Regions from separate parts of the Homo sapiens genome. Here region 1 is linked to region 2. Evidence: fine-mapped expression QTL. A gene starts in region 2. The other region holds a variant in brackets. All regions are shown on one strand. Distances are from middle to middle.

Evidence for each region.
Region 1: its variant is fine-mapped to the expression of GNG11 in whole blood (TOPMed, PIP above 0.99).

Annotation. Positions count from the first base shown.
Region 1 is chr7:93,934,446-93,950,183 of GRCh38, forward strand. LOC105375402 (a long non-coding RNA gene) reads right to left here and starts at 3,069. Exons shown (of 3, transcript XR_927751.3): 1 at 2,691-3,069. The variant A/G (reference allele first, on the strand shown) is at 7,696.
Region 2 is chr7:93,913,535-93,929,272 of GRCh38, forward strand. GNG11 (G protein subunit gamma 11) reads left to right here and starts at 8,201. Exons shown (of 2, transcript NM_004126.4): 1 at 8,201-8,699; 2 at 12,557-15,076. The coding sequence starts at 8,604. The coding sequence ends at 12,682. LOC105375402 (a long non-coding RNA gene) reads right to left here. Exons shown (of 3, transcript XR_927751.3): 2 at 2,902-2,986; 3 at 408-1,561. RefSeq lists enhancers at 805-2,004, 7,803-8,438.

The sequences.
Region 1 (15,738 bases), 21 kb after region 2:
TCTTTTCCTAATATTCGGTCTCAGGTAGCAGAGATGAGAAAGATGCCCAGAGAATTGGGGTTTGCTATTTAATCTACGCTTCATTCCCCAAATTTGCTTCTGTTTCAGTTCTGTCTGAACGTGGACTTTAGAGAGACTCCTATTGATATTTTTTTGGATGCATGCCTTTATTGGAAGATCCTACTCCCCTTGAAACAATACATTTCTCTTAATAAGACTGAACTCTTTCTCTGTAATCCTGATCAATATTTCTCAGGCTTCTGCTTCCTTTTACTGTGCTGAGAGTTTTTCACATAATTCCTCATATTTTGCTATAGTGAAAGGTACAGTTTATCTAAAAAAGGAGTTTGCTAATACTTTTTGATTAATAAGTAACATAGTCACAAGTTTGAGGACACAAATCATGAGCTTAAAGCATTACATAGCCTTGGTGCATCCATTGACTTGGTAGCTGACCCTGGAAATATGGGATTCTTTTCACCCTTTTAGAAAGACATTTTCCAAAACATACCTCTCTTTGAAGAATTTAGTTGAGTGTCTGGAATCTAAAATTTATAACATTATCATGCATTTGTATAAACTAAAAAATAGATAAAAGGTTATGCATTTGTCATCTACTGGAAGGGAGGTAAGGTAATATTATAAATGCATTTTGCTGAAGTTATAAATCATAATGGTGTTACTAGCTCAGGGGCTGCCAAACTTTTTCTGTAAAGAGCCAGATAGCAAACATTTTAGCCTTTGCAGGACTACCATCTCTGTGACAACTACTTTAATATAAAAGCAGCCACAGGCAATGAAATACATAAACCAATGGGTGTGGTTGTGTTCCAAAAAAACCATTTTTTATAAAAACAAGCAGCAGGCTGAATTTGGCCCACAGCCATAGTCTGCTGACTCCTTCGCTAGATCAGTGTTTTTCAAACTACATATTAGAACCCATTATTAGTGGTCAGTTTTGTGAAATGTAACAAATATTTTGAGTAAGATAAAATCAAATGAAGTAAAATATCAGCATATATTCCATCGAATAAAAGGACATATCATATGAAATATATGTATGTGTTTGAGTCAATATTCAATTTTTTTTTGTAGGCTCCAGTCATGGAAGTTTGAAGGCTGCTGGTCAAGAGCAATGAAACTGAGTCCAGCTTTGGATAGTGTGTAGTAATGAATTAACCTTGCCCAAAGAGAGATCCGGCCTTTGCCCTTGGCCACTGGGGAGTAACCTCTAAGCCCTTTGAAAGTTCTGCGTGACAAGAATGCCTTTGTTTACCTGGGGCTTTGGGCCATGCAGAAAGTCTATCATGCAGTTCCAGTTTGATTTCTAGGGCCATGTAGTATCAGCTTCATCTGAGAGACTGGAGGCTGAGACCAGTTGACCAGGGAGCCCCAGTAAAGACTCTGGATACCAAGGCTCAGGTGAGCTTCCTTGGTTGGCCATAGTTCATGTACATTGTCACACAGTGTTTTCAAAAGTGTAGTGCTTTCCGTGACTCCACTGAAAGAGGATAACTGGAACCTCCATGTTCAGAACTTTCCTGGACTCCACTCCATGCATCTCTTCCCTTGGCTGATTTTGATCTGTATTGTTTGGCTTTAACGAACTACCACTGTGATTATAAAAGCCTTCAGTGAGTTATGTGAGTCCTAGTGAATTAGTGACTCTAAGGATGGTCTTGGGGAATGCTGAACCTGAATGGGTATCAAAAGTGAAGTCAGTCTCATGGACTGTGTTCTGTTTACCTTCTAAGATAGGTGAGGAAACCATAAGTCAGATGCTTTCATAAAGGTTGTGGAGCAAATTAGCAGCAAACCCACAATGAGAATATTAGGTTTGTAGTTTCCATATTTAGAGGCTTCTTTCTTCTCCTGTGCATCTTAATGCTGCTTGTCAACATTTGTGGAGTGTATCTGACTTTGTGTTGAAGGCTTTGTACACATTATCTCATTTTATCCTCACAAAGACCTTATAAAATATGTACTAGGATTAGTGACAAAACTGAGGCTTGAAGAGCTTAGGTAATTTTCCCTGGGTCATACAGGTTTTCAATGATGGAATACGGATTCAAACCCAGGGAATCTGATTCAACTTGAGTTACTTTTTTCACTGCTTGATATTGTTTCTTTTGGGTGTTGTACATTTCCTTCTTTAAAGAAGCTGAATTTCTTTCATTTGAAACCACCAGGTTACCTGATATATGTGTAAATAACAAATAATTGGCCGGGCACGGTGGCTCACGCCTGTAATCCCAGCACTTTGGGAGGACGAGACGGGCGGATCACGAGGTCAGGAGATTGAGACCATCCTGGCTAACACGGTGAAACCCAGTCTCTACTAAAAATACAAAAAATTAGCCGGGCGAGGTGGCGGGCGCCTGTAGTCCCAGCTACTCGGGAGGCTGAGGCAGGAGAATGGCGTGAACCCCAGGGGGTGGAGCCTGCAGTGAGCCAAGATCGCGCCACTGCACTCCAGCCTGGGTGACAGAGCGAGACTCGGTCTCAAAAAAAAAAAAAAAAAAAAAAAAGAAACAACAACAACAAAAAAACAAACAAAAAACAAATAATTGGATCACATATATAATATATATCTTTTGTATTCCCCTCAGTACACAACATAATTAACACTTAATGAAGAGAGGTTGAAACAATGAATAAGATATAGGGTAAAGGGTTAAAGTCCCACATACCTTCTTGGTCTTCCACATTGCTGTTGACACCTTGGTTTTCTTCCTCTCCATCTTTGCCTCCATTATCCTCCTCTTCTTCTTTCTCTTCTTTCTTCTCTATTCTCTCTCCTCCTTTCTCTCACTTCTTCTCATTCTTATCCTTTATATCCATCATCATCATGATTATTATTGCCAAAAACTGATTAGGCTAATTTCAACCTCCTATATTTCCTAAAAGCTAAGTTAAAACAAAATTTCCGCTGAATGAGGTATTTGGTTGGGCTTTGCTTAAACAGATATTTGCTATAATGCTGTCTCTGAGTGTTTTACTGCTATTTACAATACAATGCAACCCAACATTTTCTCTTTTCTTTCCTTTACATATTAGAATAAGGATACCTAGATGATGTCTGGAATTAGAAAGAAATGGAAAAATAGGCAGAGTATAATTTCTATTAGTATTATTTATAATGGACTTAAACCTGAAGTCAAAGAACTGTTCTGACTACATAATTTACAGTTCAGGAAAAAGTTTTTACAGGAAAACTCCCTTTTGATGAAACAGTTTTCTTATTTTTTCAATCTTGATTACAGAATACAGATAAGGACATTCACCCATTTGGTCACCAGTGGGAAGAAAAACAATGCTTTCCTGCTCCTCTTTTGTTTAATATTCTAGTAAAAGCTGGATACTTGGGAATGCATAAACCAAGTAATAGGTAAGCATAACACTGATAGTGACTTCTATTTGTATGGTCTTTTGGATGTTTTCTATGCACAGTCACATTATTTCATTTGAACCTGAGAAGTAGGAAGAAGTACATATTATACCCCATGACTTATTTTCATCCTGGAAATGAGCAAACTAAGCCCCAGGGTTAAGGGACTTGCCATGGGCATGCATCTAACCAGGACTTCTAACTCCAAATACAGCGCTCTTCTCACCACACCCTGTTTTTACTCTGTTTAAATAAATATTCTCAGTTGGCTTGCTATTTTCTCAAATACACATTTTCCCTGAACCAAGAGTTCTTAACCTGTAATATACATGGATCTACATGAATGAGTTTCAGGAGTCAGATAACCTTCTAAAATAGAATTTTAAATGTTGTGTGTATGTGCTGCTCTCTCCTGTGCTCCTCCTTGTGACAATCTACTTTTTTCATCTCAGAAGTGTCAACAAGACAAACATGGTTAGGATCTCTTACCTTAGCAGGGAAAGTGCTTATATCCTTTTCCCATATGAAAGGGATAACTTTGGGACTTTAGTTTAGACCTTGTTGCTGTTTCACTGTGTTGGAGACTTGCAGAAGATTAGGAATACCCTCCACTGTGCCTTGTCTAGCTTCCACTCCACAGTCATCAAACTGACTCATCTTCTCAATCATTTCCTCCCATTAGCTTTCCCTGTCATCACAATCACTCAAAGAAGCTGCTCCTTCTGCCACCAAAAAAAATGTTAATGGATAGAAGGGCTCCCCACTGCCATATTCTGATCACAACTTGTTGCCTTTACTTATTGACACTTGAACTCTATGCCTTCCTCTCTCTTTGGTTGCAGTCACCTGCTCAACTGACTTTTTCCTTAGTGACATCAACGTATGGCTCAGAGACCTCAACTCCACTCTTCCTCCTTGTCTCCTGTCAACTTCAAGTTCTAAGAGTATGACTCTTCTAACACTAAACCTTAGAATGTATCAATCTCCCTAACTTGAGTGATTACAATACTAATATTATACTTTCTGCTGTTCTATTATACTGTGCTACTTTAAAGTATTTTAGTATAGTTGGTAATATCTACCAATTTTGGATATTAATGATCTCTATTTTGCAGCTAGAGAGTATTAAAATTTTGAAGAAAATGACTACACTTTTTAATGCAACACTAACCTGTGGTGTTAGAAGTAAAGCTCGAGTCTGCTCTTTGGAGTGTAGTATGAAAGAGAACATGAAAGGGGCTTCTGGGTTGCTGGTCATATTTTGGTATTGAATGGCAGCCCTCGTGACAGAGTTGTATTCACTTTGTGAAAATTTCTTGCACTGTTTACGTTTAGTTTATGTGCACTTCCACTATCACTTTGAAAGTGTTCTGACTTCATTTCTTCCCTGTTAAATATCTAAAAGTATTTCTATTTAAAATCTGATTTCCCTGGTTAATAGCGAGCCAAGCAACTTTTCTTATGATTTACTCATTTGTAGTTCCCCAAAGCTAGTTTGGCCCACACTTCCTGAGGTTCATGATAGGATTTTCTTTAGAATTGTTGGGGGAGGGAATCCGGAGAATAGGGGACCGTGTGGCAGGGGGATTCCTGAGTACAAGCAAGTAATGAAGGGTGAGAGGTCGTCGCCTTGTCTAACCCCCATACCGTCTCTGTAGGCTGATTAATGATGCGCTTCACTCTCATTTCTTCTTATTCAAAGTCTGATAAATTGTCAGGGGCTTGACCCCTGGTGCTCTTAAATGATTTATTTAAACCAGGACTTATTTTTATCAATCATCTGAGCCAGAGGTCCAAGGCACCTCAGGTCTGTACCCTGACCCTCTTTCAGGGGAAGCAGCACCTTGGGCAGAATGTAGAATATGAAGACAACCACCTTTTGCTCTGCGATAAATCGTTAACTGAAATATCAAATATCAGTACTGTCTTTGCCCTTCAGTGTTGGAGTTGCTGCTGAGTTTCCCTTACCTTTCCTTCCTCTTCATCTCTGCCAGCACTGGCTTATCTTAAAATCCTCCCACCTTCAATATCTCAAACATGTGAGTTTTCCAGGCCTCCATCTCTCCCTTTCCCTTACATAAATCCTGGTATGTGTCCACATCCTACTCTAGTCTCTCTGTTTCTCCTGATTTTCCCCCACCTTCTGATTTTCTTTGCCTCGACCAGCCTGCCCCAGGTGATCAGCCATTTTCACCTCATACCACATCACTTCAGTGTCCGGTTCTTTATGATTCCCGGGGCTTACTTTCTCAAGGTCACCTCTAGTTCTGAATTCCACCCCCAGTTCCTCCCTGTAGCCCACTCACCTCTCACCTCTTGCTGCTGTTCTTTTCTGAGTCTTTCCTTCATTTCCCCAAAACTTTGCTCCCAAGGCATTTCTGTCTGTAGAAAATATTGTTCATGACTTGGGTGAAAGGGAGTTTACGAGATAAGAGAAAACAAGGTCAAATTGAGCACCAGACATCTCTGTACATGGAGGTCTTTCAGTTCTTCAAGTTGTGCTGTCCAGTCCTTCTCCAACATTTCTTTCTTTCTTCCCTTTATTTTCCATTCTAGTTCACCTCCAAATTTTAGTTAATTTCTAATGGAAATCAGTCAATTTAACTATTGTTTTGCTTCTCTTCTTTCAGTGACTCAACTTTCATTTCCTCTGTTTCACCAAAACTGTTTTTAAGGTATTTTTTAAAAGACAGCTCTTTTCCTAATATAAACTCATATGCAATTTTTCTCTCTTTGGTTGTAGTTGTAAAGCATCCACCTCTTTTTTCTTTTTTTAAAAAAAAATTTCTGTCAAGCCTGCATGTCTATTTTCTTAAGAAGTAGGGGTAGAGCAAAGTACTTAGAAATCCAAAGCTGATATATTCATCTGTAAATAAGTCTCTGCCTCACCATCTTAGTGAGTTCATTTTCCTTTTGCTTTCAAACTTCACCTCCAACTCCTCTCTTCCTTTTCTGTCTTTACCTGTTTTTGTTTGGAAACTGCCATCGCCCTCAGCCTTCATCTTGGCTTGCTTGCAGAGCTTCCCCTTGGATGACCTCTCTCCCTCAACAGCAAATCCCTGACACCAACTCATTTCTGATTATTGGCCTTTGTTCCCAGACTTTCTTTGGGGTAACTGTATTTCACCCATGGCATGCTCTTGCTGCATGCTCTTGCTGGCCCAGCAGCCTTTGCTAAATCTATCATCTTCAGCTTCCCTTCCTCCTAATCAGCTCACAGCTAAGAGATTAGGGTTCCATTTGAACCAGCTCCTCCATGGAGGCTGCTGTGTCCTCCCTCCTCTTCTCTCCATGCCTCCTCCACCTTCTTTCCCTTCTTCACTCTGTTGGTCAAAACATATTGAATGTAGACCAGCTGCCTTTCAGTACTAAAGAGACCAGGATGAATAAGTCCATGTCTGCTATCTTGGTGCTCATAGTCTAATGGGAAAGAAAATTGACTAGGTAATCGCACAGGAGTCTTTAGTGGTTCCCAGTAACAGTATGATGATATTTTCTTATTTTCTTATTAAATTATTGTTTTCTGTATTATTAGTAGCAAGTATATATTTCCCACTTGAACCTTATCACCCCATTTTTCAAAACAATTTCAGCTTTTATTTTAGGTTCGGGGGTACAGTTGCAGGTCTGTTATCTGAGTATATCACATGATGCTGAGGTTTGGGGAATGAATGATCCCATCATCCAGGTACTGAGCATGGTACCCAATAGTAGTTTTTCAGCCCTTGCCCTCTCCCTCCCTCCCTCTCCCCTCCAATAGTCACCAACATCTATTATTATTACTATCTTTATGTCCATGAGTACCCATTGTTTAGATCCCACTTATAAGGTTTGGTTTTCTGTTCTTACATTGATTAGCTTAGGATACTGGCCTCCAGCTGCATTCATGTTGCTGCAAACGACATGAATTTGTTCTTTTTTATGGCTGCATAGTATTCCATGCTGTACAGGTACCACAATTTCTTTATCCAGTCCACTGTTGATGGGCACCTCGGTTGATTCCATATATTTGCTATTGTAAATAGTACTATGATGAACATGTGAGTGTATGTGTATTTTTGGTAGGACAATTTTTAAAATATATATATACCCAGTAATAAGACTGGGTGAAATGGTAGTTCTGTTTTAAGTTCTTTGAGCAATTTCCAAGCTATTTTCCACAGTGGCTGAGCTAATTTACATTCCCTCCAACAGTGTATAAGCTTTCCTTTTTCTCCACAGCCTGCTCAGCATCTGTTGTTTTTTGACTTTTTAGCAGCAGCCATTATGACTGGTGTGAGATGGTGTTAATATCTCATTGTGGTTTT[A/G]ACTTGCATTTCTCTGGTGATTAGTAATGTTGAACATATTTTTGTATGTTTTTTGACCACTAGTATGTCTTCTTTTGAGAAGTGACTGTTTGTGTCTTTTGCTTACGTTTTAATGGTCACTCCAAATATTTACAAGTTGAAAATGGGACCGGTTGAGCTATCAAATACCAGGAGGGTAGAGAAATGGAACACCTGATCAGTTTACATTTTCTGTTGCTTCTGAACAGTCCAGTCAAAGTTTCTTCATTTTTCAGTAATGTGCTTGTTGAACTGAATCCCATTTATTTCAAGCTTAGGCCCAAATTTGATGGCTCCCTTGTTTGAGTCACACATATGTTCACTAACTATGCACCAAAGCACAAGCCTGAGATAACTGCTGTGCCAGCCACCCAACAATGGATCACAAGTTGCCAGCACATAATGGGTTCTCCAGCACATAATCGATTCTGCCCTATGAGTGCATTTCTCTTTGAGACCTTTGGCATCTTTTCTTGCCTGCCAACTTTGTGTTACATTGGTCCAATCCAACAGATATTTTAGCATCAAATATTAGGGAGCAGGAGTTCATTCCCTCCCATAAGGCTCTGAACTTCTTATGAAAATTGGTTTACTTCCTCCTCTATGATCAGCTTTGGGCAGCAACATGTGATGTGAGCAGGCTTCCTTAGGTCATATCAGTGGATCCTACTGGCAGGCACTCTGAAAGAGAGTGCAGGAGTGAGCCTTTCCGGACTAAAGTAGGCCTATAGGTAATTTACTTTTGTTTCCTCAGGAAGAAAAGAGGTGGCCACTTCGAGTACAAGTCACTCAGTTACATATAAGATAGTGTGGTAAGAAAGTTATAACGATTGACATAAAATTCCATAGCCTCTTGCCAAGAAGGTGACCATCCTTGTCTTATCATGGCGTTGAGTTTCATCTGCACTTGAGGTGTTGGTTAGATGAGAAGAAAACCTGACTAACCTTTGCTGCACACTGGGGTTCTTTTATTTCTCACTTGAATTCTTTACTGTATCATTTACAAACCTTCTCTCTTTTCTTCAAGAGTCCAGCACTATTTCAGCCTGCCATCTTGCTGGCAAATGTCCTACACGTCTACTCAGTGGAAAAGTTTGAAAATATCAGATGTACATTCCCCTAATTTTTCTCCTACCTACATGAGAATGTGTTAATTGTTCATCTTTCTTTCCTGGTCCTTCTCTTTTTCGATGGAGAAACAAGTGTCTCGTTGTTTTCTGTTCTTGTTTTTGGTTTTGTTTCTTTTACTAAGCCTGTGTTTTTGAACTCCGGTGTCTGTGGATCTCCTGGGACCTAAGTTATACCTTCTTGTCTTAGATTTTCTACCTCTTGCCCTCAATTGGTTATGTTTCTTTTTTCTGCCTAAAAACATGATTTGTACAATCTACCTAAATCAATAATAACAACAATTGTAACAACAAAGCAAAAGAAGAAATTTTTCTTTGTTCCTGCTTCCTGTGAGAGCAATACTCTCTATGGTTTTATTCAATTTCAGATCTTTTTATCATCAGGTATTTCATTGATTATATAATTTGCCTGCCTCCATTCCTTACTAATTAATCATACTTAACAATAATATTATTCTTAAATACATGCATTTCTTTCTCATCTTTTAAACGAGTCTCCATTTTTTCAGAAGAGAAAAATTAAATTCTATTTCTTTTGAAATATTACAATCTTATTCTCACTACCAACTTTCTCTCTATGACTTTCCAACTGCCAAGTCCAGTGTATTGAAAGTCTCATTCACTTGTGACCTTCTATATAACTGGAATCTGGTTTCTACTCAAAGCCTTTTCCTCCTTTGACATCAAAACCTCGCCTACCATGCTCCTCTGCTTGCCTCTGCCATTTGGAGCTTTTCCAACTTATTTGATAGCAACACTTTTCAGGCTCTTATACACAGACATACCATGATCCCTGTCTTACACACTTCTTTCTTTATCCTTCTGCATGCAGAAACTCACCACCAATCCAAAATACATTTCCCCTTACAGAAACCCTCAATTGCCTTATTTTGCCTTCTAATTTAAGTACAAACTATTTGGCTTCATGGTTCCACAACACACATTTTGGATCTCCTATGCCAGTATTTTCTACTTTTGTTCATCTGTATATACCTATCCAGAAACAGCTGGTTGATAGCTAAGTAAATCTTAAGCTTCTCTGTCTCCCAGTCACTGTGATACTATTTATTCTGTCTGAAAGTCTACTTGTCTCTCCCCTTCTCGCCACCTGTCAAGGTGACTGAGGCTAGAACGCAGACTGTTCAAGGGCATGACAACGACTTGTGGGTTAAATAGAAACTTGCTTAGTAACTAGCCTTTCTTGATATATTATTCTTGAACAAGTTCATTTTGTTTTTTCTCATCTTTCAAAGAAGTCTCCATTTTTAAGGGAAAAACTGTAAATTCTATTCCATTTAAGGAAATGTCCCATGATATTAGAAAGCAAGTTTATTCCTTTTTGGATTAAGAAATTTAAAATGGTTAATGTATATTTTATTTTTCAGTGAGAAAGTTAAAACTGCACTAGAATGACATTCCTCACTTCTTTCTTTTGTTTTCTATTTAAATTGTACATTTTGCTGTGTGCTAAAGCACTGGACTCTGTATTATAGAGAGACTGTGGGTGGTATGCATTTTGTGACCGTGTTAGTTAAAGCATGATCATACTGTTGACTGGTTTGGCTTAGACAGTAGGAAACATCTGGCAGTTTCCTGATATTTATCAAGACAGAACTGTGCTTCCTTTAAAAACAGTTTCACATGAACAATGCACTACATAATAGCAGAGGAATTTTATAACAACAAGTATAAAAACAAGAATGTGACTATTAAATATAGACATTAATTTTATAATGTTAATCAAAAAGTTAACTCTTTTTGATTATAAAGTTATACTCTAGAAATATATCAATGTTTATATTATAAATCCAGAACAGAGTGTTTGTTCTTGCTGAAAAGAATATCAGAAAATTGATCTGAGATAGTAGAGCGAACTTTGATTTATAATTCTTTGACTGTAATGTTCAAATATATTTACCTAGCCTGGCATAGTGGCATGTGTGCTTGCAGTCCCAGCTACTTGGGAGGCTGAAGGAGGTGGATCACTTTGAGCCCAGGAGTTCGAAGCTGTTGTGAGCTATGATTACACACTGCACTCCAGCCTGGGCAACAGAGCAATACCTTGACTCTAAAGCCAGTCCCAAATGAACTTGGAAGGAATAAGAATAGATCGGATAAGTGAGTGGGGTCTGATTTTTTTCTTTTTGAACCCTGTAGGTTTCAAATCCCAAGTTCCAAGGTCTATATCTTTCAGCTAAGGAACCTTAAAGTAGGGTGGCTTTTTATGACTTTTCCACTTTCATATAAATCTGTGATGGATACCTAAATGTGGCCTTGCTTCTGATCTGTATGTCAGAAAATTGGACTAAATAACTTACAGTTATGGTTCCAGAGTTAGCAAATATATCAACCCTTTATGCTTGGCTCAAAGTAGATATTGCTAATCAGTCACTGAGTGCTCTCTTACCGAGCTAGAACAGCCCTCATAATCTTTTCCAATAGCACTGCAGGTTTACTAATCAATTGGAGTTGACATGACATGTTAAACCTATTTGCTTTCCCAGGTTTAGACTTTCCAAAATATAGCAAATACAATCATTTGGGCAAAACTTATCATTAATCGCTTTCCAAAAGAAATGCTGAAAAACTATTTTGGCAGCCCCTCCTCTCTGCCTAATACATGGCTATTTTAGGAGACATATAACTGCATGTGATCTGATTCCTCCCTTATCTTTCTTTTCCAGTAGTGTCTGCAAAGTTTATCTCATCCAGTTTGAATAGACTTCTGAGCACATCGCTCTCAGGTCTTCACAGCTAATCTATTTTCAACCACGATATAACTTCCTATATCCAAGACAAGGTGTCCTTCCTTTTTAAAATAACTTATCTTTCCCAGTTCCTTTAATTCCTTTAGTTTCTTCCGTTTTCCTAAATGTTCATCACTTAGTCACTTCTTTACCTTATTATGTCTCTTCTCTCCAATAATTGCCCCTCCTCACTAAAAATATGCTGTCAGTTTTTCCTTGGCTTTAACCAAGCATGCAAAGCCACAGACTTTTCACCAATTCTACTCCCTACTTAAACTAGCACATTATAACATTTTTCCCCCTTTAACCACAATGTCTGTTAAAACACCAGGCTGTTTCATCAATCTCTTCTTAATTCCTTGCAAGGATTTTTAAACTCTTGGAATTTGCCAAATGCTTTCTTTTCCTTTTAGCCTCTCAGTAGCATTCTTGACCTGCTCCGTTTCTCTGGCTTATCTAGCCCTGCACAAAATGAATTTCTTCTTTGCTTGTTCTTTTTGTGTTTCCTTTGTTAACATTTTATATAATTCCTAAGGCCTTATTCTTGACTTTCTTCTCTTCCCCTTCTCTACGTCCTTCTCTTTGGAAAACTCAACTTTGAAATTTTCAGCTATCATCTCTTTACAGCTTTCAAATTAATGTGAGTACTCCAGGCTTCACTCTTAGAGGTGAGTTTCACATTTTCAACTCCCCTTCTGAACATAAACAGTGACTTTCTTTTTCCAATTACTTTTAACCTTAAGGAGACTTTTTAACCTGTGTTTTCATCTGTTGCATATCAGGCATGCCAAATTTAGTTGCTGTCCTTCAGTGTGTTTTCTGGGCCCCATTCTTCCTCCCGGTTCCATTGTCTTCTCGATTAAAGCTTTTATCACCCCAAAACAGAAAGCTTAAAATAGTTACATTGCAGCTTCATATTCCTGTCTCTATAGTCTTTTTTCTGAAAGCCACCTTGCAAAAGATCTTTAGGTTTGCCATCTTAAACCACTGTTTTAAAACCATATGTCTCTTGTCGAAAACCATCATGGGATTGCTATTATCTACTGAATGAGAACTGGGCTCCTTATTCTGACAGCCAAATTCTCCATAAGCCAGGCTTAACCTACCTTTAAAGCTTGTGCTCATGTCAAGCACACTACTTGCTGATTCCAAAATTTGCCTTGATTTTTTTTTTATGAGTGTGCACTTTTGTTTTGCCACTTTAGATTTCTGGAATTAATTCTTCTACTTCTATATTCCATCTTTTAAAATTCTACTCAATCTTTAACAGCCAACTCAAACAACTTCAGCATTAGCCTTGAGGTAGAGGTGTGACCAGGTCCATCCAGGTGGGGCACTGACCAAGAAAGAAAAAGAAGGAGGCAGTCGAGGGACATCTCTGAAGGGGCATAAGATTTATGTCCAACAAAGACATGGATGCTAGCTAATACCATGGGATTGCTTAAGGTGAGTTGTAAAAGTGAGCAGAAGAGAGACTTGACATGGCCTGAAGGCAGGCTAATAGTTATCTTGGGAGTAGGAAGAAGAAACATGCAAAAGACACCAGCAAGTTGTGGTCAAATACAGGAGAAAAGCCAGGAAAATGTGATATGATACAAGTCAAAAGAAGAAAGTTTTTCAAGAGGAATGTAGTATTTGATATTTTCCAATGTTCCTAAGAAATCAAAAGAGATGAAAATCAAAAACAAAAACAAGTGGGTGGTGGGGAATAGAATTTAGTGACATGGGCCACTGGGAACATTGATGAGAGCTCTTTTGGTGGAGTGGTAAAGGGTCAAGCCAGATTAGTGTTGGCTAGTGATCAAGAGATGAAGAAGTGGAGACAGCAAAAATGTATAATATTTCTGGAGAGCTTGTTGTGGCTGAAAGAGAATGAGGAACGAATCTTCTTTCTTGGGAGTGGCTGGAGGTAGCTTAAAAGCCATTAAAAATATTCAGGTTTAATGGGAAAGTTAGAAGATAATGCAAAGAGAAAAAACATTTGAGTAAAGTTCCTAAGATAGGGGGAGAGGATAAGCTCAAAAGTCAGGAGATTTAGTGTGAGCAAGGAGCAGGCCACCTCCTGTCTTGCAAAAAGACAAAGAGTAGACATGGGTGAGGAGAAAAGACATGTGTGTTTGGTGGCTTAGAGCATGTGATTTAGAGATTGAAGAAATGTCCAATTGATGGCATCTATTTTCCCTTTGAGATAGTAAGTGACATCAACCTCTGACACCAAGGAAGAAGTGGGAAGTAGTAGGGATGGGAGTTTCAGGAGAATGTAAACGGTTTGAAACAGTCATTGCAGAGTAATGTCATTGCAAAGTAATTTGAAAAAAAAATTATTGGAATGCCAGAAAAGAATGTAAATGAAGAAAGACTCAATATGTGGGTTTATTAAGGACTGGTTTGTTAAGACCAGTGTGATCAAAATATGGGACATAAGTACATTTAGAATGTGGCCAAGAATGTTTTTTGGGGATTTTTTGTTTTTGTTTTTGTTTCTGTTCAGGGATAGAGTCTTACTCTGTTGCTCAGGTTGGAGTACAGTGACAAGATCATGGCACACTGCAGCATTGACCTACCAAGCTCAAGCAATCCTTCTGCCTCAGCTTCTCAAACATCTGGGACTACAGTTGTCCACCACCATGCCCAGCTAATTTTTTTGAGTTTTTGCAAAGATAGGGGTCTCACTGTGTTGCCTAGGCTGATCTTGAACTCCTGGGCTCAAGCAGTCCTCTTGCCTCCCAAAGTTCTGGGATTACAAGCATGAGCCACCACACCTGTCCTCAAGATTGTTATTGGAATGGTGGAATATATATTGTGAAGAGGAAAATGAAGGAAGAAAAGGCCAGTAGGTTTAACAAAAAAAGAAAGAAAGAGAGAAAAAGGAAGAAGGAAGGAAGGAAGGAAGGAAGGAAGGAAGGAAGGGAGGGAGGGAGGGAGGGAGGGAGGAAGGGAGGGAGGGACGGAGGGAGGGAGATAAGGAGGGAGGGAGGGAGGGAAAAAGGGAGAGAGGGAGAAAGGGAGGGGTGTAATTGGATTGGCAGTCCTGATGAGATTCAAGAAGGGTCTCTGATGCCTTACCTGATTACTCCCATCTGGAAGCTGTTTTTTATCTAGCTTCCCCAATCACGGTTGTTTGAACTGCTTATTATTGAGATGTTATCCACCATATACTGCCCTATTTCAATATGGTATGCTAGCTCACTTATGTGGGCTGGATGTGTAGTACAAGTGTCTACACACTTAAACTTACTCATGATAGGTAATCAATAAATATTTGTTGAATGAATGAATAAGAGAAGGGAAGAAGAACAGAAAGGATGAAAGTAAGAACAATATACTTTAGCTTAGTCTTTTGTTTACAGATTGTTGTCAACACATATCTTACTGATTATATTTCCTTTTCTTGCAACTTTTAAGAATGAGTATATGGTATTTTAGTCATTTAGTGATCAAAAGATTGATCAAAAGATTAGATTAGGTTACTCAAACCAACAAATGTTTTATTTGACCATTAAACATAAATTTGTGCTCTCTTTTTATTCACAACATGAGGCAGAAAATTGTGAAAGTTTCTAGTAATTACAATTCAATCCAGAGAGCCAGTCTGGGAGTGAGTCACCCCCTTGTCTGGACAGTAAGTGTCCATTATTTACGTCAATATGCTCTGTGGCTGTGCCTGCAGCTAACCCTGAATGATAGCAAATGTCTGCTTTTCCAATTCTTTTTCAATTTCCTTCTTTAAGAAGAAAACAATTGAATGTAACAGGATAGAACTACACTGAACATCACTATTAAGATAATGGCTTACTGAGTTTGTTGTTCATGACATGAATGCTGTTCCTGTTACACTAATAATTAGCCATCTGCTAAAATGTGAATTTTTCCATTTTGAGCTATGAATCTGTAAAGAATATGAGCACATTGATTTACTTCCTTTGAATTTTTTTATTACAATTGTATTGATATCTTTCAGTCCAGTTTTCCTTCCTTAACTTAAACGTATCCCTTTCCTCTTTAAGGATATTTCATGCAGCGTCAAGATACATACAAAGTAAAAAGCTTAAAATTTTTTTAAAAAACTGTCCATTAGATTGTGAAGTGCTATTTTAGTGACAATACTAAATCGATATTTGTTGTGTTATGGCTGAATTGAGTGAATTTTT
Region 2 (15,738 bases):
CACACAACCTTAACATGTGACTCTTTAACAAAATTTTCTGGTGTCATTAATGAGAATGAGTTATTATAGATACTACAATATATCATTTGAGCTACTTGGACTTTAAACATATTTTGCACACATAGATGAGTGTAAGCTTTAGTAAGAAAAAGAAAAAAGAAAAGAAAACACCTCACTGTTGTTTTAATTTGTACTGGTTTTATTTTAGCCAAATTTTAAAACCAAGCTAATATCAATCTTCCTAAATTACTAAAATATGAGTTAACATGAGGAAAATAGTAAACTGAGTAATGAGAATGATCAATTATGTATGATGGGAGTTAAAGTCTTACAGAAAAAAATGGTGAGGGAAATCTGTTTTTTTATTTTTTATTTTATTTTATTCTTTTGAGACAAGAGTCTCACTCTCTCACGCAGGCTGGAGTGCAGCGGTACGATCTTGACTCACTTGCAACCTCTGCCTCCCTGGTTCAAGTAATTCAGTCCCACCACGCCCGGCTAACTCTTTTTGTATTTTTAGTAAAGAAGAGGTTTTGCCATGTTGGCCAGGCTGGTCTCAAACTCCTAACCTCAAGTGATCCTCCCGCCTCGACCTCCCAAAGTACTGATATTACAGGCCTGAGCCACCACTCCTCACCGGAGAAATCATTCTGATACCATGAATTATAAGTAGTTGCTAAGATACTCAGAGCATCAGACACAGTTCATCTTTTGACTTGGCATTCTCTTCATCTAGAAAAGGAATCTTAGGGTCAGGTGCAGTGGCTCATGCCTGTAATCTCAGCACTTTGGGAGGCCTAAATGGGAGGATCACCTGAGATCAGCAGTTCGAGACCAGCCTGGCCAACATGGTGAACCCTGTCTCTACCAAAACAAAAACAAACTTAAATATACAAAATTAGCTGGGCATGGTGGCGTGTGCCTCTAATTCCAGCTACTCAGGAGGCTGAGGCAGGAGAATCACTTGAACCCAGAAGGTGGAGGATGGAGGTTGCAGTGAGTGGAGATCACGCCATGTATATACTTCTGAGAATTTAGGGATGATGATAAGCCTGGAATTTAATAATTATTCTCTTCCACCTTTACGAGTCACATTTTTGGAATGAGGAAAAAGATTTAATCAGTATGAAATCTGATGACATTCTTGACTTCCGTTGCCAGTTGTGTTCTGATTCCTGGGTCTTGTCTCCTTTGATGTTGGAGGCAGTGTCTACGGGGAATCTTTAGCTGGAGCATGGCCAGCTGTTTTTCCTTTGTCTGGAGATATATCCAGAAGGAGTGGGAAGGGTGCAACTTTCTTCTTTCCTACAAAGTACGTATGCATTGGTGGAAAGCAGAGAGAATCAAACTGAAATTATACGACCTGAAAACTTATTGCAGTAAATAAATTCTTGGCATCTGGAGTATTCTGTTTTAAACCAAATGAGTCATCCGTTTTTCCTTCCCCTTAAGGTATCCAAATGTTGTGAAGAAGAGATTACGTTGAAGAATGATCTGGCAAGGATCCACTGGTAAAGGGCATCCCAGAGGACAAAAATCCCTTCAAAGAGCTCAAAGGAGGCTGTGTGATTTCAAAATACCAAAAAAAAAAGAAAAAAAATTAAACAAATTCTTGGAAATATCTCAAACGTTAACAACAATATGGATTTTTTTCACACATAATGCTACTACTATGCATGTACATGAATTTTTAAATTTATAGATGTAAACTTTTAATAAAAATTGGGGTGTGGTAACCCATCATTCTATGTTTTTCTTAACATAGCTGGCACAGGGTTTAACACATAATTGCCAAAAAAATATTGCTTAAAGTTCTTTAAAAAGAACTATGTTTTATAAATGATTCTATATTATTCTGAGTTGTCAGCATATATTTACTGTTTTATGTTTTTTCACTTCCCTTTCAATACTTATAACTTTCTACCCAGAAATTTTGTGGTTAAATTTCTGTTTTCTTTCCCAAACTTTCTCTTGCTTATGGAATTAGGAAGCTTATTTTTCTGATATGCAGTTCACCTATCTTGTGACTTTTCCCCAGAATGCCAACTGGGTTGAGGGTTCAGTCTGTGGTCACGGAGCACGGTGAATTTAACCAGCAGCAGAATCACGGTTATAAGCATGCACTTAGGAGCCAGACAGTTCTGGCTCTGCCACTTTACTGCCCAACTCACTTTGGATAAGCTACTTAATTCTTTCTAAATTTGTTTCTCCTAGCATAGGATGAAGACAATAATGGTTATATCTTCTGTTTTGTGTAGGGGTTAAGTAATACACTAATGCAACTATAACACTCAGCATATTACCTGGTCCATGGTAAGATACAATAAGTGTTAACTAGTATTATTACTGAGAAAGGATCTAGACAAAATTTCTAAAGTGCTTTAAGAAACATGCTATTTTACCCTATCATCATGAAGACTCAACACCACAGTCTTTTCTTTAACAAGGTGAGCACACATGAGAGAGAAATCTCCATCACCTACATCAGGTCCTTCTGGCATCCTGTTGAGTTTACATGAGTCACATTTCACTACCATTGTGTTAATGACTAAGAGAAAACTTGCCTCTGCTTCTGTAACAAATGACAAGTTGTAATTACCTAAATCAGTAACCACTTTTGTGGTCAGTGTTTTCTTGTTGCTGTCTCACATTTACAGTGCTATTTTGTATACTTCAGTGATCAGAATACTCAGAAATACTAATTGATTGTCACACTTTAAAAAAAAACATTAAAATTATCTATTATTTGGTCTGGAAGGGAGTCTGAAAGTTGTACCAAAGTTTGGCTTCTAGCACAATGCCCTCCCACTCTGATCATCATAAATGCTCAACAAATATCTGTTGACTCTTGTCTAAACTCTTCATTTTGAAATGGAGAAAATAAAGTTTCAGAGAAGTCACCTGACAAATTTCTTCGGTCAAGACTCTGGGCTTCTGGCTGAACAGTCAGCAACACACCCCACCACGTGTCTTCATCAAATGTGCTCTGAGTATTAAGGGATTCTGGGATTAGTTACTGAATGTCTTATCTATTTTTCCTCAAGAAAAGCTTTTTATCCTCCTATTTAAATTTACAAAACCCTCTCCATACAGTCCTCCCAACCTCCACCAAGCGCTTCCTGTCTCTCTCTCTCAGTCTATTTTCCCCCGTAGCACCATCACCACCTGGCATACTACAATTTATTTGTTTATTTAATTGTGGTTTGTCTCTAGAAGTTTTCCACCTGCAAGTTAGTATTTATTTAGTGAAGTGTTCAGTATATCTCCCTTTCTCTGATTAAAATAAATACAAAGTAAGTACATGCTATGGCATTCAGTAACCTGTAGAAGATGGTCCTAACCAACATCTCTAACTTTCAGTTTACCATTGGAGACAAAGTTTGCAGCCCAACAATTCAAAATTAAAACCCTGACTCTTCCACCTTGTCATTGAGAACTTGGACAAATGACGTGAACTTTTTGAATCTGTTTTTTTTTATATATAAAATTAGTGATTAGGCTAGATTATCTGAATACTTATAATCTCTTAGATCAGAAACGGGTACATAGAAAGAAGCCTAACAAATGTCCTCTATTATTATACTTCCCGTGGACATTTTCCCACCACCTGGAATTTGGTCATACTGATCCCTCCACCTGAGATCTCCCTCCACTCCACCCCATTTCAGCCTTTTGAAATCCTACTCTTCTTATGAGACTATCTCTCCCATTCTACCTCAAGAGTATTTTGTGTGTCTCTTAAGTCATTTAACGTTACTTTACTTTTTCTCATTATAATTTCTACGGTTGTTTTAATTTCAGTACTACATTGGAGATTTCCCAAGTCAGAAGCACTGTTCATCTTTGAAAAGTGTCATATCAACTAACAAATTGTCTGGACAATGTAATTGACTTTAAAAGCAGGCAAGAGTGGTGCTTATAAAAGTTTATATTGGATCAAACTTCCTAAATGCCTCAATAATGTGTTTACATGAGGAAAATAGTAAACTAAGTAATGAGAATGATCAGTTATATATGATGGGAGTTAAAGTAATATAGAAACAAAATTGGTAAGAGAAATCATTTATTTTTATTTGTATTTTATTTTATTTTATTTTTTTGAGATGGAGTCTTACTCTCTCGCCCAGGCTGGAGTGCAGTGGTACGATCTTGGCTCACTGCAATCTCTGCCTCCTGGGTTCAAGCAATTTCATGCCACCACACCTGGCTATTTTTTTTTTTTTTTTTTTCAGTAGAGAAGGGATTTCATCATTCTGGCCAGGCTGGTCTCGAACTCTTGACCTCATGTGAGCCTCCTGCCTCAGCCTCCCAAAGTGCTGGGATTACAGGTGAGAGCCACCACTCCCAGCCAGAGAAATCATTTTGATATCCTGAATTATAAGTAGTTGCTAAGATACTCAGAGCATCAGACACAGATCATCCTTTGACTTGGCATTCTCTTCATCTAGAAAAGGAATCTTAGGGCTGGGTGCAGTGGCTCACGCCTGTAATCCCAGCACTTTGGGAGTCCTAGGTGGGAGGATTACCTGAGATCAGGAGTTTGAGACCAGCCTGGCCAACATGGTGAAACCCCGTCTCTACTAAAAAAGAAAAGAAAAAAAGAAAAACAAAATTAGCTGGCTGTGGTGACACACGCCTGTAATCCCAGCTACTCGGGAGGCTGAGGCAGCAGAATCACTTGAACCCGGAAGGCGGAGGTTGCAGTGAGCAGAGATCGCGCCATTGCACTCCAGCCTGGGCAACAAGAGTTAAACTCCTTCCCCTGCCCAAGAAAAAAAAAAAAAAAAGAAAAGGAATCTTAGGTAGGTAGTTACAGGAAACAAATGAGCTCCTGAAAATTGCCTCATGATTGTTTTAACAGATTAAAACAAATATCAAATGAACCAAGAGCGTCTGAAGTGTACTTTCTTTAAAGAAACCATAATTTCAATGGTCAAAACAGTTACTATGCACTTTTTAAATTTATTTATTTATTTATTTATATTTATTTATTTTTTTGTAGAGACCGGGGTCTCGGTATGTTGCCTAGGCTGGTCTCAAACTCCTGAACCTTTGGTCTCAAGTGATCCTCCTGTATCGGCCTCTCAAAGTCACTCTATAAATTTTAGAAGAGCAGACTTTGAAAGGTAACCTAGTTTACTTACACGAAATAAAAAAGCAGAAATAATGTGTTTCTTGCAAAAATCACAAGATAAAATAAGACCAGAATCCTGATCTTTTTTGAGTTCAAGTTAGTATTAGCTCAATTCCAGTTTAACTGCCTTCAATGTTTTATTTTTCTTTATATAGATTTTTAACAACATAACAAATCACAAAAATTGTCAAAACCTTGTTTTTCCTATTTTTGCATACCAAAGTAAAAATTTCATGGTTGTTACTCTTTTATAATTTAAAAGTGAAAATGGTTACTTTTATTTTTATTAACTAATTTCTATAAAACATTTGTGAAACGACAGTGGGCTAATTAATCAAAGTTCATTGCTGGTTGCACCTGTCATTTTTACTAAAGAATGGTTTCTACTCATACTACTTGTAAAATAAATTTTACCGGGGTACTATGTAAAATATAAGTAAAAACCTAACAAAACATTTGGACACAGCTAAACAAATTTTAAAATTTATTTATTCAAAATTTTTGAATATTGCTGATAAACTATTTCTGCAAGTATACATGAGAAATTGCTTAACATGGTTCTTCTCTGGGAGGTAAATTCGGTGTCTAGGCATAGAAGACTACACATCCTTTTGTTTAAAAAAAAATATTCTCATCATTTTACTATTTAAAACCAAACAGGGCCAGGCGCGGTGGCTCACGCCTGTAATCCCAGCACTTTGGGAGGCCGAGGCGGGCGGATCACGAGGTCAGCAGATCGAGACCATCCTGGCTAACACAGCGAAACCCCGTCCCTACTAAAAATACAAAAAAATTAGCTGGGCGTGGTGGTGGGCGCCTGTAGTCCCAGCTACTTGGGAGGCTGAGGCAGGAGAATAACGTGAACCCAGGAGGCGTAGCTTGCAGAGAGCCGAGATCGCGCCACTGCACTCCAGCCTGGGTGACAGAGCAAGACCCCGTCTCAAACAAACAAACAAACAAACAGGAAACCAGCAACAATAAAACCTTTTTCAGAATCCTGTGTGATCATGCAATTTCAACATTTTGCAATTCACTTCAGTTTAATCAATTTACTTAAGATATTAGAATATGAATTATTTAATAACAATAAAAAAGACTAACAAGTATTTTGTTTCTAATACGTCTCATAATACGATGGGAAAAGTTAAAGAACCAATATGGGCTTATAAGTATTTATCCCTCTAAGCAACTAGATGATTTCATGGGAAAGAAACTTCAAAGCCAAAATAATTATATTTTTATGACTTAGAACAAACACACATTAACAAAAAATTAGTCAGGCGTGGTAGCGGGCGCCTGTAGTCCCAGCTCCTCCGGAGGCTCAGGCGGGAGAATGGCGTGAACCCGGGAGGCGGAGCTTGCAGTGAGCGGAGATCGTGCCAGTCACTCCAGCCTGGGCGACAGAGCGAGACTCCGTCTCAAAAAAAAAAAAACAAAAAAACAAAAAAACAAAAAAAAGAACAAAAACACAATAATTTATTTAACCAATTTATTTAACTTAGGTGCTGAACCTATTTAATTTAGGCCACATTCACGTTGATTACTTTCACTAATTTAAGGTATTTTTGACCAACCTTTTAAATTTAAGTAATAGAAAATTTTAAAAATGAATTAGTGCACAAGACAGATATGGACATTTGTCTAGTCTCCCTGCTTATTTACAAGTAAACTTCAGTAGATGCTCTAACTACTCTGAGCTTGGAAAACCCTGGTATTTCAAATATTGAAAGTGAAGCTCTTAAACATTTTCTTTGTGAAAATGATTTATCATATATAGACATACCAACACAATTAGAGACACAACATAGCTTAGCTGATTCACTACTTCCCTGCCTTACTATACATTTTACAAATTAGAAAACCAAAACTAAGAAAAATTAAATGACTTCTTCAGTGATGGCCTGTGGCAGAGCTGCAACTACACGCCAGGAGTATTCATTAAGTGGTTCATTGTTTTTTTCATTCTAATTTATTCATTGAGGTTGAGCGGAGCGTGGTAAGAAACTAGGAACGAACAAAAACTCCTGCTTCCTAAACAGGGAATGGTCATGGGTGTCTTGGGTCAGCTACTCTGAAATATTAAGTTAATATTTCACTTGCCTTTGACTCTGTGAGGCAGGAGGTTATCTCTGGAAAGAAAGAGAAATATCCAACTGCTAGGGAAGGTTTCTTACATTCATGTTTGATTTTTCTTCTACTCTTTTGACCACCATCAACAAGACTTTAGTTACAGTTAAAGGGAAAGTTTTATTGCATGTAAACTTTTTTCACATCGGACACTTTTCCTGGCTTTCCAGAGCAACAGCTAGATAAATAGTGCTTGCCAGAAAGTGGAGAAACTAATACTAAATGAATCCACTGCCTACATCCAGGAAGGTTCAGGAGCCAGGAATTCAAAATCCTTGGTGTCAAGTGTCACCCAAAACTTAGGGTTGGGGAGTGGAGAAAGGCTTTCGGTTAAGAACTCTAAGATTCCTGCTTCTGTCTTCTCTTATATCATCCTTTGATGCACCCCTCTACATAACATTCCCCCGGAAAAATAAAAAAAATACAAACTCTGCTGCTGTTGAGGATGCAGATGATTATTTAATAATAGAAAATGTTCTTGCAACTTGTAAACGATATTCACACCCTGTTGCCCCCTCCTCGCCCAAAATGTATAAACCCATATTAGGCCTCGAACAAGCCGGATGGACACAAATGAGCAGAACACTGGTGGGTATTTCTGGGATTAGGGCTAAGCTTCATTTTCTTTTCAGCCTTTTCTTAAGCGTCCGCATTCTCCACTATGCATTTATTACGTTGGTGCAAAACTAATTGCACCAACCTATATATGTAATTAGAGAAAAGTAATTACTTTTGCAACAACCTATGTATGTAATTAGGGAAAAGCTATATCTAGCATATTTTTAAAACTCTTTGAGAGGTGAAGGGTAGTTATTTCCTGCTGGGTAGTGTACTCCTTTTCCTAGCTTCACAAACAAAACCCGGATGTGACTTGGAAACGGAAAAAAAAAAAGGAGCGGGGGTGCGCGGAGAACACAAAGTAAAACTTCTGCTGTTCCCAGTCCTGCAGCCCCAGCCCAGCCGTCCCCCGCGGGCGTGGCAGGTCCTGAGTCAGGGCCTGTCCGTGGCCAGCATCCCTGCTGGGCGATTGAGCAGCGGGAAGCTGCTTGGACCCAGTCTCAAACTTAACCCTCATCTAGCACCCGGGCAGGCCTCCTGGGTTGCAGGGACTTGAGAAAAGGCAGAGTTCTCAGGTCCTAGGAAGCTGGGGCACGCTGGCGTGACAAGCGTCCCGGAGAAAGCCAAGCCCTCGGGGAGCTGGGGACCGCAGCAGGGCTGCAGTCACATCCTGCGCGGGTGGGCGGCGGGCCAGGCCTTCAGTTGTTTCGGGACGCGCCGAGCTTCGCCGCTCTTCCAGCGGCTCCGCTGCCAGAGCTAGCCCGAGCCCGGTTCTGGGGCGAAAATGCCTGCCCTTCACATCGAAGATTTGCCAGAGAAGGAAAAACTGAAAATGGAAGTTGAGCAGCTTCGCAAAGAAGTGAAGTTGCAGAGACAACAAGTAAGTTGGCTGTTCCGGAATATTTCCTTCTCTGAAATGAAGCAGGGTCCGATTTTTCCTGCTTAGTAACAGTAAAGCAAATAGTTTAGCTTATTTTTCCCCCTTTTTGTAGCTTCTCTTCTCACCACCCTTTGGCAGTGCCTGGGGACTGCCAGCTGATGTGGGGAAATCCTAGGAGGTAGAGGAGGGAGCAAGGATCTGATAAGTAATTTAAGGCCAAATGTCCTAACTTTTAAGATGCCTAGGAAGGGGAAAATAGACAAGAAATCTTGCTTTCCATTAGACAGCTGTTTTTCAAAACTCACTTGTAGGAAAAAAGCGGATAGCTACTTGGTTCTTTGATCTTTTACACTACTAGAAAGGATGATATTTGAAAGAAATTTTCTAAAACCGTATTTTAAAGTCTTACAAGTACATTATTTAATTTTGAATTTCACCAGTGGCCTTCAGTGATATGCAAAGAACAGTCCACCGAAATTTGGGAACAAAATATTAGAATTTCTATATTTATTTGTAAATCTCATCCCTTTATAATTTTCACTTTATGTTTTATTAGTATGCGATTAATACAGTAGTATCTGTACTTATTTATAAATAATTATACATACACTGTGGTGCATATGAAAAATTTTTTTAGTGATCACAATTTTAAAGTTTTAGAGACTATTGATAGAGATTACCATTTCATTGAGAACATATGACCCAGTATTCAATATTCTCCACTGAAACGTCTCGGGAGTTTTATAAGTTTTACTTCAATTTCTTACTGGTCATCAAGACCTTCCTTCAGACACTAATCCCTCTTCCTGTTTTAACTCAATCAGGCATCCTGTAGACTAGGAAAGGTCTTTGAATAGATATTGTTTAAAGATAATTAACCTTTCCTCTTCAGCAAGAAAATTTTGAACTGATCTTATTTATTATGGTTTAGCACTAGAAAAAATTAAGAAAAACAATGGAAATGAAGCGTTATAATATGCTCACTTGCCTTCCTGTTCTAGTTATAATAAATCTGTTAAGGGCAAGAGTCTTCACTGTTGAGTGATGATTAGAAGATGCAGGCATTTTTGTGTTTTACTTTTTACATATTTCTTTTCTCAAATTTAACCTTTCACATCCAAATCCCGGCTCTTCCTAGCTTTTATAATGAGCTGTCCCTTCTATCATGTTAAGGGTTTGTAGCTTTAAAAACACCAACGCGTTTAAAGGGGAAAAAAAGGAAGTTACACTACCCAATCAATAAGCACGCTTCTTGAAACCTTAAGGGACCCATTTTATGGATGGCGAAGTTCCCAGTACAGCAAGTGCTGGCCACTTAGATATGTTCACACAATAAACCTTAGGAGTTACATATTAAACAGAGTTTCATATGCTGAAGTACAGCATTGTCTATGCAAGGTTCTAATATCTTAATATTTGGTATCACTGTGTAGAACTTAGGAAAAAAGACAAGCGTCTTCTACTTACTCAGAGTTTTAAGTTAAGTGATGTGGATGCAACCGACTATGTAAAAATTGACTGTATCATTCATTAGCAGTTTCTCCCTGCTAGCCAGCCTGACCCTTTAGGACACGGCCTGTGGCATCAACTTCCCACCTCCAGAAACCTCAAGTGTATGCCAGAGGGAGAAAAAACTTTGGATATATGTAACCTTAGGAAATACAGAAAGAGGCATCTAAATCTCAACAATAATATTAAGACATTTGATTATACACTTGGAATTATACATTATTATTGCTAGGCAAGCATTGGAATGTTTAGAGATCATTCATCTCCCTCACTTTAAGGATTAAAAAAAACTTGAGTCCCACAAAGGCTAACTAGCTCCACATTTAAGACCACAGAGATAGATAGTGATAGGGCAGGTACTAAAACATTCTTCTTCTCATTCCCAGTCCATTATTCAGTCAATAAATAGTTAACATCTGGGCTACGTGTTCAGTCCTTAACTTAGGCCCAGACAAAACTTGCAAGTTGCATTCTGGCTGTAGTTAAATGTTTATCAAACATGTCCTCTTGATTATGGAAGGAAATGTATCAGAGGAGCAATTACTCACATTTGGAGGTTACAGACCTCTTCTGAAACCTAATGAAAAAACCTTGTAAGAAAAGATTCAATGTAGGGAGCATGTATCTTGCTGAGAAATTAACCTGGGACGACAGACCCTAAATTATGACACGTGCATTATCAACTCTAAAAATTCACTTAAAATGCATGCACTCTGAATGTCAACAAACGAGAGCAAATGTTACCTGAAAGAATTGTATTTGAAAGATTTTATTTTGCCAGATTTTAAGTCACACAACTACATCACCTAGTTTTCAATTTGAGGTCAGAGGCTTCCACACTGATTTGCAGAGGATAATCATTTGGGGTGTGGAAGTAAAATGTTAACATTGCTATTTCTGTTTAGTTTTAAACCTCACCCATTTATAATTTCCAGTTTATGTTTTATAATTTTGCATGATGTATTAACAAAGCAGTGTCTGTACTTATTTGTAGTTAAAAATTATATTCATTTTGGGATACACATGCAAACATGTTTTAGTAGTAACCGTTAAAACAGTTTGAGGTTACTAATTTAGATTACTAATTCAATGGGAACATTTGCCCAGTTTTCATAGGTCTCCATTTAAATTTGCTGGTGCGGCCTGGCGCGGTGTCCCACGCCTGTAATCCCAGCACTTTGGGAGGCCAAGGCGGGCGGATCACGAGGTCAGGAGATCAAGACCATGCTGGCTAACGTGGTGAAACCCCGTCTCTACTAAAAATACAAAAAATTAGCCAGGCGTGGTGGTGGGCGCCTGTAGTCCCAGCTACTTGGGAGGCTGAGGCAGGAGAATGGCTAGAATCCGGGAGGCGGAGCTTGCAGTGAGCCGAGATCCTGCCACTGCACTCCAGCCTGGGCAATAGAGCAAGACTCCATCTCAAAAAGAAATAAATAATTAAATTAAATTAAATTTGCTGGTACTTCTGTAATTTTTACTTTAAATTTCTTACTAGCAATACAGGCCTTCATTAAAACCCTAATTTCTTTTCTTTTGTTTTTATTCTTTTTTTAATTCATTCTTGCAACCTGTCTTTTAAGGATAGATAGACTTTTTGAAGAAACTCTTCTTTTAAGAATAGACTTTTTGAAGACACTATTCAATTTTTTCTCCATCTCAGAAAAAAATTTATTCTCAGATAAGCCTAATAAGTCTCAGATAAGTCTTTTATTATGATCATTGCCCTCATGCAGCAGGAAGAAATTCTGAGGAGCAACACAGAGTGCGATATTTGGACAATTCCAATCTTTCCAGAATCAGGCTTTTTCCAAAGCTTCTATCATTTCGTGAAATTTCAGAACATGGCACACACCCATAAGTGAGAATCGTGGCATTACACACCCCAAAACATTTGGGGATTATCTACTACTGCACCTGCTCACTAGCATGGAAAATTAAAATAAGAGTATATTTCAGTTCCTAAAATATTGTAGACATGGCATAATTGTATTTTAGCAGAGGAAGGAAATCATATGAGACACAATGGAAAAAAACTGCTGGAGATGATTTATTTAATGCAGTGACTTTCAAACATTTTTTAATTTGACCAACGACCAACAGTAAGAAATATATTTTACATAGGTTGCATCATAGGTATAGTAATAGAATAAAAATATTAGAGTGCAGAGCCCAGATTTTATATATGTATTATATATATAATATATACACACACACATGCACATATATATGTAAATGTAAAAAAATGTTTAAAAACTTATTGTATTCAATTATACTTATTTCATTAAGGCGTAGGGACAAAGTTTAAACAACCCTAACCTAATGTATTCTCTTTTTTTTCTATACTTAAGGTGTCTAAATGTTCTGAAGAAATAAAGAACTATATTGAAGAACGTTCTGGAGAGGATCCTCTAGTAAAGGGAATTCCAGAAGACAAGAACCCCTTTAAAGAAAAAGGCAGCTGTGTTATTTCATAAATAACTTGGGAGAAACTGCATCCTAAGTGGAAGAACTAGTTTGTTTTAGTTTTCCCAGATAAAACCAACATGCTTTTTAAGGAAGGAAGAATGAAATTAAAAGGAGACTTTCTTAAGCACCATATAGATAGGGTTATGTATAAAAGCATATGTGCTACTCATCTTTGCTCACTATGCAGTCTTTTTTAAGAGAGCAGAGAGTATCAGATGTACAATTATGGAAATAAGAACATTACTTGAGCATGACACTTCTTTCAGTATATTGCTTGATGCTTCAAATAAAGTTTTGTCTTGGGAAGATGAGTGTTGGTGATTTAAGAAGACACTTTTCATGCATTAACTTTTATATTTCTCCCCGTAATCTTTTGGGTGTGGAGTATGATTGGGTTTGGAATATGATTCAGAAGGTTAGGTGGTTCGACAGATCACATCTCCAAACCCTGCGTCAATGGTTTAGAGTGCTGAGTTCTGACCTCTGGAACGTGTTTGATCTAACCTTAACTATTAAGAAACTGAGCAGGTAGAATTCCTATAACATTGACAGAAGTCAGATTATCTGAGTCAGGAACAAGGCCAAGCCACATCTATGTTAGTACTTCCCTAGTTTATCATCATTTAGATCTTCTTAATAGTGTTCCTGTAGTAGTAGCCTTGAAGAAAATACTGAGTTGGGGTTCAGGAAGAGTGCCCTGCCTCTCTGCCGTGTAGTGGCCAGGCCAGCCCTGGCTTTGAGAGCCAGTACTTATTCCTGCACAGAGCTACATCTCCCATGTGCTCTCCAGGTCTTGGGCATGGCACTACTCCAGTTCTGTGGCATTGGTGCAGACACTTGGACCTCTGCACTCATGCTTGCCAGCATTTTCCAGCAGGCCTGGGCCAAACATGCCTTTTTTTCTTCTCCTCCAAAGGAACCAGTGAATCTTTGCCCACTTTAAAGATTAGTTGGTCTTTTTCTTACTGATTTGTAGGAATTCTTCATATATTCTGGCCATTTATTCGTGTTTGGTGATATGTGTTGCGAATACCTTCTCCCAGTCTGTGGCTTACCTTTTCACAGTGACCTTCCCTTCAGTGGTTTTATCCTGCAGGGCAACACGTCAGAGTATAACTCCTGCTCAAGTTCATAACAAAGGTACCTGAAGCCCAAACCTCACAAAAAGGGACCTTTCTTTCTCACCTTGAGCATTCTCCCGCTTCTTCTCCGTCTTTTGGGTCAAAATTGCTCCAAGTTTGAGCCAAAAGAAAAACGTGGAAAAACCCTTGCTGGTTAGCTCTAGCTCAAATGGACTTAGTCATTAACTTGACCTGCAATTTTCAATGTGGCACCAGAAGCCAATGTTTCTCCTTGACTAGCTCTTTTCTCCCACTTACACATGTAGGTATACCTTACTATCAAGCGAGAGAGGCGCCTGTAACCTGTAGCAGCTTTCTAAAGTATATCAGCATCCTCGTTCTGAAATTCCTTTCCTTTCCCTCTCTGGGAAAGAACAGAATACCCCAGGCTTTTGAAAAATAGTTTACACAGACCAAAAGCAGAAACTATTTCCTTCAGTTTCCTGACACTGTCCAAGTGATGACATCAATTGGCATTACTGAGAGCCCAGGGATAATTTTAGCCCAAAACTACTACTCCTAGGAAGGAGTAGTATGATCTACTACTCTTAGGAAGGATTTAGGAATAGTAAAGGTGTATTTCTTCCAAACAGCATAGAACTATTAGTACTATTAGTCATTTAACATTTAACATGGCATGGGATTTTAGAGCTTTGGTGCCTGTAAAGTTTTACTTCTATTAGCTGTTTCATTTCTTTGCACTTATAAAGTTTTCTTCTGTTGCCTATGAAAGCAAACATTTATTCCGGTTACTGGCAAGGCAGTTTAAATCACCTGCTTCTTTCATGAAAGGCCAAGACAATACATTTATTCCCTAACTTGTTGGGAGTTGCGATTACAAGTCTATATCCTGATTTCTATTAGCACATTCAGCTATCCATTTGTGTACACTCCCAAGTCCTAGCTTTTGCTCTTCATGTCTCTTTCAACCATATGATCAATCAGTTGGACGACTTCTGGTTTTTCCTGAATAAATATCTAATCTTATAGGTGCTTCTATTAAATATAATTCTGTTTCTTTTTCTTACCATTTATCATTATAACCCAGCCAACATGTAGAAGTGCAATAAAAATATTTTAATTTTCAACTGTTCAACTGCTAAAATTATTAGCTTGTAATTAAAAAAGAAAAAATACATCCACTATATATTTAGATATATTGTAAATGTAACCTTTGGTGACTGATAATTTGTTAAGTAGAATTTAAATTATGTATCCAATTTATTCAAAGTGTATAGTTGTGTAATTATTTACTATTTGATTAAAAATAGTTATCATGCATTGTGTAGTGAGACTTAGGTTCTATAAACTCATATAGAATTAGAAAAATCAGGCCGGGCAGGGTGGCTCACGCCTATAATCCCAGCACTTTGGGAAGCTGAGGCAGGCAGATCACGAGGTCAGGAATTTGAGACCACCCTGACCAACATGATGAAACCCCGTCTCTCCTTAAAAATACACAAAAAATTAGCCAGGTGTGGTGGCGCACACATGTAATCCCAGCTACTCAGGAGGCTGAGGCAGGAGAATCACTTGAACCCTGGAGGCGGAGGTTGCAGTTAGCAGAGATCACGCCACTGCACTCCAGCCTGGGTGACAGAGTGAAACTCCATCTCAAAAAAAAAAAAAAAAGAAGAAAGAAAAATTGGGCTTTTCTATTTCTAGGCAGAAGCTACCTTAAAGCTCACCCACACTTGGTATTGTGAGACCAAAATTTTTTGTATGCTAGATGCAAATTAATATCTCACCATTGTCTAAATTTGCATTTCTTTGATTTCCAATGATTTTTAGTCAGTTTTCGTGTGTGTCAATTTTCTCTTTTGAAGATGCCTGTTCTCCTCCTTTGCTGGCAACCACTAATTTGTTCTCCATCTCTATAATTAGGTTACGACTGCTGCATAAATTAAATCATACAGTAGCTATCCTTTTGAGGTTGGCTATTA